Linked DNA regions of Homo sapiens. The protein of the gene in region 1 interacts with the protein of each later gene in a biochemical or structural test. Each region holds a gene or a part of one and is shown in the gene's direction. Other genes may lie near its edges.

Region 1 (3,751 bases):
CCTGGGGGACAGAGTGAGACTCTGTCTCAAAAAAAAAAATAAAACAAAATAGTAAGGATGGAGAAGTCTTCACCAAGGAAGTCAATATTGAAAAAGATGGGAAGATCAAGTGAAACATTGACATTCTGATAGGATCAGGAAAAGCTTACAAGAAACAAGAACTTTATTGGCAAAATCCTGGAGATTGAGGAATGGAGTTTTGTTCCTGAAATGGCAAATGTTTTCTATTTCTTGGGTGTTGAGCATAGGTAGAAGCTGCCCATTGTTCATTGATCAGATGTGCATACTTTGAAGGTATATTGTTCTGTTGATTAGCTTTTGAAAGACTTGTCCTCTTTTCCAGATCTGTCCGTTTCAGATGGTACCAGGGATTTTACCCTGCCGGCTCTCAGCCAGTGACATGGGCCATTGATAATGTCTACATCGGTCCCCAGTGTGAGGAGATGTGTAATGGACAGGGGAGCTGTATCAATGGAACCAAATGTATATGTGACCCTGGCTACTCAGGTCCAACCTGTAAAATAAGCACCAAAAATCCTGATTTTCTCAAAGATGATTTCGAAGGTAGTCTTTTCTTACAAATTCTATGTAGTCTTGTGAAAGAACTTATATGTTAAACACAATTTTTGGTAGATAACTAATCATTAAGTTTAATTCTAATATCTCATTATTATTTCAATTGTGAACATCCAAGAATTCATTTAGTTCTGAATTTATAGGGTTCCATTTTGGAAACAATGGTCAGTGAGTGAAATACTGATACATGCTACAAGACCTTTATTGAGAAAAACTAAGGCTGTGTTCACAACTTTTTCTACCACATGTAATTTCTGCCTAATGACAATTTTAGAATATATCTATAGAGACTTAATCTTGGATGGAAGGGTTTCCAGAAATATAAATTCCTGTTACTGCTTTACCACAAACTGCTTAAATAGCCTCTCATCACTTTCTATAGTTTAGTTTTACACCTAGAATTCAGTATCATTATGTGTGAAGACAATGTTACAACATAGTAAAATGCATGTAATGTAATGATTAGAAAAAAGCATTTAAATTATATATGCACTTTGATCAAACTGTGGAAAAACACCTCCATAAAAGAAAGTCTTAAGTATAATAGCCATCTATATTAGGGTAGTGGGATTAAAAGATTTTCTTTCGGCCTGGTGCAGTGGCTCATGCCTGTAATCCCAGCACCTTGGGAGGCTGAGGCAGGTGGATCACGAGGTCGGGAATTCGAGACCAGCCTGGCCAACGTGGTGAAACCCCATCTCTACTAAAAATACAAAAAAGCCGGGCACGCTGGCAGGCACTTGTAATCCCAGCTACTCGGGAGGTGATTCGCTTGAACCTGAGAGGCGGAGTTTGCAGTGAGCCGAGATCACACCACTGCACTCTAGCCTGGGCGACAGAGCGAGACTCCATCTCAAAAAAAAAAAAAAAAAAAAAAAAAAAAAAAAAAAAGATTTTCTTTCTTTTTGCTCAGTTTTTGTAAACTTGTTCTATTTATGGTTTTACAATACATTTTAAAACTAGATCTAAGTATATCCATACAGTGGAACATTACTCAGCCATAAAAAGGAATGAAATACTGATACATGCTACAACATAGATGAAACTCAAAAACATGCTAAATGAAAGAAGCCAGACACAAAAGGCCACATATTATGTCAATCTGTCTTTATGAAATATTCAGAATAAGTAAATTCATAAAGACAGAAAGCAGATTATCATTTGCCAGCGTTGGAGGAGGGGAAAGTGAGGGGACAGTGACAGTTTAACAGGCACAGGGTTTCCTTTCGGGCTCATGAAAAAGTTCTGGAACTAGGTAGTAGTGATGGCTGCACAACAGAGTGTATCAACTAAATGCCAGTGAATTGTTTACTTTGACGTGGTTAAAATGGTAAATCTTATGTGATGTGTATTTTACCACAATGAAAAAATAAATAAACGAAATCGGAGTATCTGAACAGATTTAAGAGCTGGTTTTTAAAGACAGTATTTTATTTTATATTTTATTTTATTTTATTTATTTTTTGAGATGGAGTTTTGCTCTTTCACCCAGGCCGGAGTGAAGTGGCACAATCTTCGGCTAACTGCCACCTCCGCCTCCCGGGTTCAAGTAATTCTCCTGCCTCAGCCTCCCAAGTAGCCAAGATGACAGGCACCTGCCACCACACCTAGCTAATTTTTGTATTTTTAGTAGAGACAGGGTTTTGTCATGTTGGCCGGGCTGGTCTCGAACTCCTGACCTCAGGTGATCCACCTGCCTCGGCCTCCCAAAGTGCTGTGATTACAGGTGTGAGCCACCGCACCCAGCCTTAAAGGCGTTATTTAATAGGCAATAATAAATGGTATTGAAATTTCTCCCACTAAACTGTTTTTTTAAATATTTTGTTGTCCCTGCCTGATACTATCCTTACATTAGAGAGGACACAGTAGAGAGGCTGGTGGAAAGGCTACACAGCCCCCACCTTCCTGATGGCCTGAACTACTCTCTGACTAACCAGTGTCCTTTTTTTCAGTGTGAACAAGCCGAAAGGAGGGATCCATCTAGCTGGACCATAGATACTCAAGAAAATACCCCCTCCTCCTATCACAAGAATCTTTAAATTATTCCAGCCAAGGCTAAACAATTCAAACAAGCTGAAATGTTGAAAAGGCCTCTTATCCTAAAACATGACTTTAATATTTATGACTTCATATTTTGAAACTACATAATGCATTTACCATACTCCTTTTAAAAATATAATACAACTCACTATAGTTGGGGTCATAGGTAAACCATATTTTCCAATTTTTTCAGGTCAGCTAGAATCTGATAGATTCTTATTAATGAGTGGTGGGAAACCATCTCGAAAGTGTGGAATCCTTTCTAGTGGAAACAACCTCTTTTTCAATGAAGATGGCTTGCGCATGTTGATGACACGAGACCTGGATTTATCACATGCTAGGTAATCATTTTTAGATGCTGTTGAAAAAAACCACATCGTAATGTATAATAGCAGAACATAATCAAATCAGAAGGAAGCAGAGCGATTTCAAGGACAAGGCCTTCCATTGTAAATACTGAACTTCTCTCTTTATCAAAGCTTTCAGGAAGACACAAGTTACATAATTTCTATTCTAAAATTGAAAGAGATTATTCAATAACTTAATCAGAAAGGAAACATACCTAAACAGGCAAAAATTAACATCTGGTATTTTATAAGACTGAGATTAGGAAGTAACAATGTTTAATTTACTTTAACTTCAATAAAATATTGTGTCTTCTTTATCTTTCTGTATAACATACTTTTCATTAGCACTTGCGCTATGTAGAAATTATTTACACTTATACCATGCTTAGTAGAAAGCTTAGTTGAAATGCAGTATATCTTCAAATTATTCATAATTAATTTTATCTCCGCCAGCAATTTAAGTTAAAAACATTTGAAGGGCAGCCTTATTCTTTATAAGCATCTTTCCAATGATTCACTCACACATTCTAAGCAGTCATTTTCTAAATTGAACACAGTCACTCAGAAACAAACATTTTAAACTGGCTCAGAGGATTATGTCCTGTCAAGATGTGTATCCCTTGATCATTTGATGGGCCGAAAACTTAACAAGGAAGATAAAAAAGATGGTTTAACATGTGTAAAATGGAACCCTGACCTAATTTTGCAAGTGAACAAAGAAACCATGTTTTTGTCTTTTGAGATATTTCAGAGTATCTTAGAATACATCTTAACATTTTTACCCCTTC
Region 2 (3,751 bases), on another chromosome or scaffold:
AATCTCTGGGGCCACGAGTTCCGCTCGCACCACGATTACTACATCATTGGTACTGCTGGGCAGAGGGCACGATTGAGTGGGGGGCTCCTGATACTGAGCAGAGAGGGAGGGGGACCCCTGCAGCCAAGAGGGAGATCCCAGTGCCCTCAGGCAGTGTTCACACCAGGGTGTGGGGCCAGAATCAGGGCTAGATTCTGGAGTGCCAACCTCTTCCTCTGGCTTTTCTCTCCCAGCCACATCGGATGGGACCCGGGAGGGCCTGGAGAGCCTGCAGGGAGGTGTGTGCCTAACCAGAGGCATGAAGGTGCTTCTCCGAGTGGGACAAAGTGAGTGGGGCTGGGGGACACCTCCTGGGCACGAAGGGACGTTGGGGCAGTACGATCATGGTTGGGGCAGTTGTCTCAGCCCCTCTCTGGGTCTTCCTCATCTCCAGGTCCCCGAGGAGGGGCTGTCCCCCGAAAACCTGTGTCTGAAATGCCCATGGAAAGAGACCGAGGGGCAGCCCACAGCCTGGAGCCTGGGAAGGAGAACCTGCCAGGTAGGAACCAGGGGCTAGGCCCCTGCCTTCCCCAGCTTCCTCTGCTCTCAGACCCCAGCTGCCCTGCCGTCACCCTCCCTCCCTCTTCAGTTTTGGGGGCGGTGATACAGGAAAGAGGAGAAGAGAGGATGGGAGGGTGGGAGGGGAATGGAAACCAAATGAGGAAAAGACTCAATTAGAACTAATTAGCCAAGTCAGTGCTTCAATCAGTGCTGTCAGAGAAGTGGGGAGGACTCCGTGGCAGGAAGCTGAAGGGCTGGACACCTGGATTCTGAGCAGAGTTCGGAGGGGGAGGAGAGATGGGGTCCCCAAGGGGCCTGGGCGCTACAAGGGAAGCCCATGGGGACCCCCAGGGTTGGGTGTCCAGGTGCCCAGGTGGCTCCTTCAGTCCCTCCCCCTCTTTCCTCCTTCACCCCTTCCCTGCCAGGTGACCCCACCAGCAATGCAACCTCCCGGGGTGCTGAAGGCCCCCTGCCCCCTCCCAGCATGCCTGCAGTGGCTGGGGCAGCAGGGGGGCTGGCGCTGCTCTTGCTGGGCGTGGCAGGGGCTGGGGGTGCCATGTGTTGGCGGAGACGGCGGGCCAAGCCTTCGGAGAGTCGCCACCCTGGTCCTGGCTCCTTCGGGAGGGGAGGGTCTCTGGGCCTGGGGGGTGGAGGTGGGATGGGACCTCGGGAGGCTGAGCCTGGGGAGCTAGGGATAGCTCTGCGGGGTGGCGGGGCTGCAGATCCCCCCTTCTGCCCCCACTATGAGAAGGTGAGTGGTGACTATGGGCATCCTGTGTATATCGTGCAGGATGGGCCCCCCCAGAGCCCTCCAAACATCTACTACAAGGTATGAGGGCTCCTCTCACGTGGCTATCCTGAATCCAGCCCTTCTTGGGGTGCTCCTCCAGTTTAATTCCTGGTTTGAGGGACACCTCTAACATCTCGGCCCCCTGTGCCCCCCCAGCCCCTTCACTCCTCCCGGCTGCTGTCCTCGTCTCCACTTTTAGGATTCCTTAGGATTCCCACTGCCCCACTTCCTGCCCTCCCGTTTGGCCATGGGTGCCCCCCTCTGTCTCAGTGTCCCTGGATCCTTTTTCCTTGGGGAGGGGCACAGGCTCAGCCTCCTCTCTGACCATGACCCAGGCATCCTTGTCCCCCTCACCCACCCAGAGCTAGGGGCGGGAACAGCCCACCTTTTGGTTGGCACCGCCTTCTTTCTGCCTCTCACTGGTTTTCTCTTCTCTATCTCTTATTCTTTCCCTCTCTTCCGTCTCTAGGTCTGTTCTTCTTCCCTAGCATCCTCCTCCCCACATCTCCTTTCACCCTCTTGGCTTCTTATCCTGTGCCTCTCCCATCTCCTGGGTGGGGGCATCAAAGCATTTCTCCCCTTAGCTTTCAGCCCCCCTTCTGACCTCTCATACCAACCACTCCCCTCAGTCTGCCAAAAATGGGGGCCTTATGGGGAAGGCTCTGACACTCCACCCCAGCTCAGGCCATGGGCAGCAGGGCTCCATTCTCTGGCCTGGCCCAGGCCTCTACATACTTACTCCAGCCATTTGGGGTGGTTGGGTCATGACAGCTACCATGAGAAGAAGTGTCCCGTTTTGTCCAGTGGCCAATAGCAAGATATGAACCGGTCGGGACATGTATGGACTTGGTCTGATGCTGAATGGGCCACTTGGGACCGGAAGTGACTTGCTCCAGACAAGAGGTGACCAGGCCCGGACAGAAATGGCCTGGGAAGTAGCAGAAGCAGTGCAGCAGGAACTGGAAGTGCCTTCATCCAGGACAGGAAGTAGCACTTCTGAAACAGGAAGTGGTCTGGCTGGAACTCCAAGTGGCTTAGTCTGGGGGATCAGGAGGTGGGAGGTGGATGGTTCTTATTCTGTGGAGAAGAAGGGCGGGAAGAACTTCCTTTCAGGAGGAAGCTGGAACTTACTGACTGTAAGAGGTTAGAGGTGGACCGAGAAGGACTTTTCCCAGTCTTCAGTGGCACTTCCCAAGATCTCCCTTCCCTTGTGCTCTGTGCTGATTTTAGGACAGCTAAGATGACTGCCATGTGCTGTGGCAGGCCTAATTTGTCTTGTTCTTTCCTTTCCATATCCCAGTATAATCTCTGTTAATCAACAGGACTACCCCAAGAACCCATGTGCTCTCCCGAGTAACCCAGATGGCTGTCTTGTTCATTCCATCCTACATTTCTGACTCCTTTCAGACTCAACACAGTTCCCTTCTTAGTGACCAAAATGGTGGCCTACTGGCTGGTCTAGCTGACAGTGGTACTTAGCAAAGGCCACTGTTTCCATAGTGACCAGCTGATACCTCTTCCTGCCCTCTAGTGTGCAATTGGGTGTTGCCTCAGTTTCCTCCCAGCTCAGTTTTATTAGATCAAAGCTGTTGTTGGGCACCAGGTTGGCCACCTCAATCACCAGCCAAGATGGTTGCTTTGTCCACCAGAGGTCAAGTTCACCTCTCTGGTGCTGTAGTTCCCAGCTCCTTCCTGATTTTTCTAATCGCTCCTTCTGGGGAACAGGAAGTTGATATTGCCATGGTGGCGGGGTATGCCGTCACCTCAGTAGTTTTACTGTAAAAGGGAAATTTGAACAACAAAAACCAAAAAAAATAAAAATAAAAAACTTCAAAAGTTGACAAGAAGGCTGGAGAATGACTGGACTTGAATTGGGACAAAGGCTTGGTTAGAATGGCTTTCAGCTGAGGGTTGGATTGCATGAAACCAACCAAGGGGGGTGGGTAGGGATAGGGCTAGTTTGGAGTGGTGAGGTTGGCAGTGCTTGGGGAGGCGAAAATGGGCTGGGCGAGAAGGCAGAGGAAGGTGTCACCTCTAGGGGAGGGAGAGAGTAATGCAGGCAGGAGTGGGGTCGCCAATTCATCCATGGGGACAGTCTGAGTGTCTTGCTAAGCCAAAGCACCAGAGACAGGGTAAGACGCAATTAGGATCAAAGTGGTAAAAACATGTTCACATGTTAAAGTCTATTCCCTACCATCCCTACCCAAGGCACTTGAGAAGTTTTGCTGTTGGGGACTCATGGGGAGAAGGGATGTGGCTGATCAGAAGGAAGTAGGAAGGACTCAGGGAGGGACCCAGGCATCAAGCTGCGTGTGCCCTGGCTCCCTGTATACCCATAACCGAGGCTCTTCTCCCCCAAAAAGCCCAGGTGCCCAGTCCCCTAGACTTAGCCCCATTCTCCAACCACAAAAGCAGCCGTCA
Region 3 (3,751 bases), on another chromosome or scaffold:
GATGACTGGATAATGTGTGCCTGGAAAAGGTCTCCCTTGCAGCTGAATGCTAGCTCCAGAGATCAGAAAGATTTCTTCCTGTAGGAGCCATAGGAAAGAGTCCTCTCTAAGTTTTTGAGAATGCATACAACCCCCTGATGACAGGGGGTCGCTTTCCTTGGGGAAGTTTTATATTTATTTCCAGAGGAAAGTTTGAATCGGTAAATATGATGTGGCAGGAAGGTAATCAAATGCATTGAAGTTTCACATCAGTTCCTATGAACTGTGGAACAATTCATTTGTAATGAAGCCGCCATCAGTAATTAGATTTGTTTCATTCAGAGGTCAGCTTTTTTAGCAGGTGGTCGACACAGGGAGCATGCAGCAGCTGTTTGGATACAGGGTCCAGAAAACCCTTTGTAAATTCAGCGTCTCCGTAACTACTTTAATCACATTGTCGGCTCTCCCGTCCCTGACTGTATGTAATAATGGAAAGATGTCCTGCGTGCTGAAACAGTAGCTGCCCTGTTAGGTTATTCACATTGCTTTGATACGTTCTGGTAGAGTTGGGTCCGTTGTAGCCATTTTGGTTGTTTAAAGTTTTGGTTTTTTTTTTGTTTTTTTTTTAATTCAGCAGAGAACAGTAATGCCTAGCTTCCGTTTTTAACTTAACACTTCAGTAGAACATTTTCTTCCAAGAGGGAGATTTTGGCCTAAGTAAAGTAGTGGGCTCTTTTTTAAAAAAAAATTAATTTTACTTTAATGTGAGCAAATCTGTATTGGTATGGTGTTCTGCAATGCATTACACTGACTTTGAAAATTTCGAGTACTAATGCCTTATGTCTGGGGTTACCATTCCCTGTGCATCACATACTAGTTAGTTAACATAGCATTTTGCTTTTCCCATGTAATTTTTTCCCTATATAATACTGGATTCCTGATACTAATTGACTTGATACAAAAGAATGGCTGGATGATATCCAGATAACGTATAATACATGGGCTTCACCACAATCAGGCTCTGAATAAATACAGACCTGTCAGAGATTGATAAAATAAACTACAATGGATAGTGCTGTTTAAACAGTCCATTCAATAACATATATAAGCCAGCCTGCCTTCCATTGTGTCTGAAATTCTTATTTTTGTAGGTAAACAAATGCACATTCAGCACTGATTGAATAGCCCCTTGAACTATGCTCCACAGTTTGCGTTTGGGTTAATCTTGTCGGTTTTAATATAGAGAGAAAAAAGCTCAAAGCACCAGGGGTGGAATTGTTAGTGCTTTCACATCCACATTCCTCACATTTTGTCAGGATGATAAACTGTAGGTAATGGACTGTCGTTGTTCTGCAGGACAACTGAGCCAGGCAGAGCACAAAGACTAAGCTAAAGCGATACCTCACAACATGCTTGGTAGCCTTCTTTTCAGATGAGAATTTATTTGAGAATCATGTGTCTAGGGACTGCACATCTTAACCTCAACAGTTACAGCTTCAAGCCCCAGAAACAGGAGCTGGAGGTTAAGATGATTTGCTAAGCACCTGGTTCTAAATCTTTTACAAAGCATAAGCTGTTGACGCTGGTTCTGCCGACGCAAAGACATGCAGATGACTCCAACATTTCCAGAGGCTTCTGACTTAAGCTAAAGTGTGTGGACAGGTGAATTCGCCATGGGCCTGGAGACCAGCTTGCTAAAAACTATGTGTTTGAATGGTTCCTCCAGACAGAGTCAGCTGAAGAACAATTGGTGGATTTATATTAAAACCTCTTGTCTGTAAACTTACTGAGGTGCATCCTTCGGTTGGTGGATCAGTGAGATAATTGCCTTCAGATGGACATTGCAACTGGAGCAACTAAATCCTTGCTGTCTTTCCTTCCTCTGAAATCTTCCAGGTAGCTCCCGAGAGCTTCAGTATGACACCAAACTTCGGGCGACGTTTTAGAGTGCGTTCACCTAATGGGAAACTATTCGAGATCCCAGCGTGACTGCAGTAATGCGTCATAGGAATGGGAGTGGCAGGGGAAAAGGAAATACAGATTGTAGACCCTAATAAAAAAATTTTTAGGAAAGATATTTCTTTAACGTTTTATGAGAACTTCATTCTTAAAATACTTAATTGCAAATTAGACAAATAGAAGTGCTCTTCTAAGGAAGGTGATTAAACTGGTCCTCCTATCAGCCTAATCTCTGCCTGCCTTTGCTGCTGACATAAAGAACCTGTTTTTCAGGTCACTTAATATACATCTACATAGATTTGCTTATGAGCTCACCCTTTGTGTAGCGGAGTAGAGCCTTAAAGAGGAGTGCTCAACTGTTTAAAATATTTTGATTAAAATATGCAGAACCCATAGAACTATAAGCTTCTAGTCAGGAATTAGCTCTTTCAGGGAACAGCTCCCCCCTTCTTTTTAAGGGGGGAATTAGAAGGAGGCTGGGGGAGGAATATAAGAACAGCAAAGAAGGAAGGATAGCAAATGGGACATGTTCCGAACAGCTTGGAAAAACTCCTGTGGCTTCATTGTCTCTATAAAGCCAAAGAATACAAAGACATAAGCAATTCAGCCCTTCTCCCATGATGGAAGATGTAAACCGTTGACATGCCTCCCCTGTTTAACTTGTTTAATTCTCATTTTAAATTCAGCACGATACTAGCCGTGTGAACTCTGAAGATTTCTTTAGTAATCCATTTTGTAGTTCCGAATCAAAAACAAAGTGAAAGGGTCTGACACAATTTGCTTTTATTTTTAGGCAAATCAACCCTGGTCATAGTTAATAAGGGGATTACAACTCAGACTAGGTCTTTACAGATGTGATGTAAATCAAGGGCAGAGTATAAAGAAACTGATCCCTTTTGATTGAAGTATAGTAAAAAGGCATAGAGAAACTAGCAGCAGTAATCTGATTGTATGGCAATAAAACCACCATTTTCTGTCTTTCAGATAAAAATAATGTGGTAAATCCATGCAGTTCATAAGATGTAAAGGCAGATAAAGGGTGAAGCCATGGCAACATATAGATTAGCTTGATGTTAGAAATGACACGTCTCTGAAAAGGGCGCGGGACGAAGGCCCTTGCCTCCAGGCTGTTGGGCATTATGTGAGAACCACACAGACTTGGAAACTGGGATTAGGAAGTATGAAAGCTCTACTTGTGGTCTGGGATGGCTGAGGCAGTAAAGAAAAGCTGCTCAGTTCTTGCTCATTGGTGGTGGATAATATGGCAAAGGTAGATTTCATTGACTGCCTTTTTTATAGATTGAGATTGGGGCTGATTAAAACTTCAGATCACTGCAGTTGTTAGGGCCTGGGAGATTTTCCTTTTTAACTCCTGGCCTAACAGCAGCAGCCGTTCTGTAGGATTAACTGCACTTCGCGGTCGTTGCCTTAATCTATTTGGGCTTCAGGCAGGGACATGCTGGGAAGGAACAGAGACCAGAGGGGATAGGTAGGGCTGGGGTTATCTGAAAAGAAAACAGAGACCTTTTGATTTCAGCCATCTTTTCAGACCCAGCTCCCTCTCCCGCTGCATGGGAGAAGCAAAGGTAAACAGGACACATTGTCCCTCTCCCTCAGCCACAGAGCTCTTCTGTGAGTTTTGTCTTTCCCACCCTGGAAAAAAAGATAAAATACAATTTTTAAAAGGGGAGGGAGGAATTTAGTTTTAATTCAAATGAGTAGTAATCCAATATGCCAAAAGCAGTGGGCTCTACCTAGATGTAATTTTACTCGTAAATGTGAGTCTTAAACTTTGAGTTGAATGGGGCAGGCT

Evidence for each region.
Region 2: the proteins of RELN (region 1) and EFNB3 form a complex in vitro, tested with the Homo sapiens proteins (one study listed by BioGRID).
Region 3: the proteins of RELN (region 1) and EFNB2 form a complex in vitro, tested with the Homo sapiens proteins (one study listed by BioGRID).

Annotation. Positions count from the first base shown.
Region 1 is NC_000007.14:103,541,937-103,545,687, reverse strand, and holds part of RELN (reelin isoform a precursor), read left to right. Parts: intron 1-343; coding exon 344-564; intron 565-2,809; coding exon 2,810-2,957; intron 2,958-3,751. UniProt on the Homo sapiens protein: Extracellular matrix serine protease secreted by pioneer neurons that plays a role in layering of neurons in the cerebral cortex and cerebellum by coordinating cell positioning during neurodevelopment.
Region 2 is NC_000017.11:7,708,202-7,711,952, forward strand, and holds the end of EFNB3 (ephrin-B3 precursor), read left to right. Parts: coding exon 1-49; intron 50-233; coding exon 234-326; intron 327-433; coding exon 434-538; intron 539-965; coding exon 966-1,375; 3' UTR 1,376-3,171; downstream 3,172-3,751. UniProt on the Homo sapiens protein: Cell surface transmembrane ligand for Eph receptors, a family of receptor tyrosine kinases which are crucial for migration, repulsion and adhesion during neuronal, vascular and epithelial development.
Region 3 is NC_000013.11:106,528,912-106,532,662, reverse strand, and holds part of EFNB2 (ephrin-B2 isoform 1 precursor), read left to right. Parts: intron 1-607; exon of another isoform or gene 608-3,751. UniProt on the Homo sapiens protein: Cell surface transmembrane ligand for Eph receptors, a family of receptor tyrosine kinases which are crucial for migration, repulsion and adhesion during neuronal, vascular and epithelial development.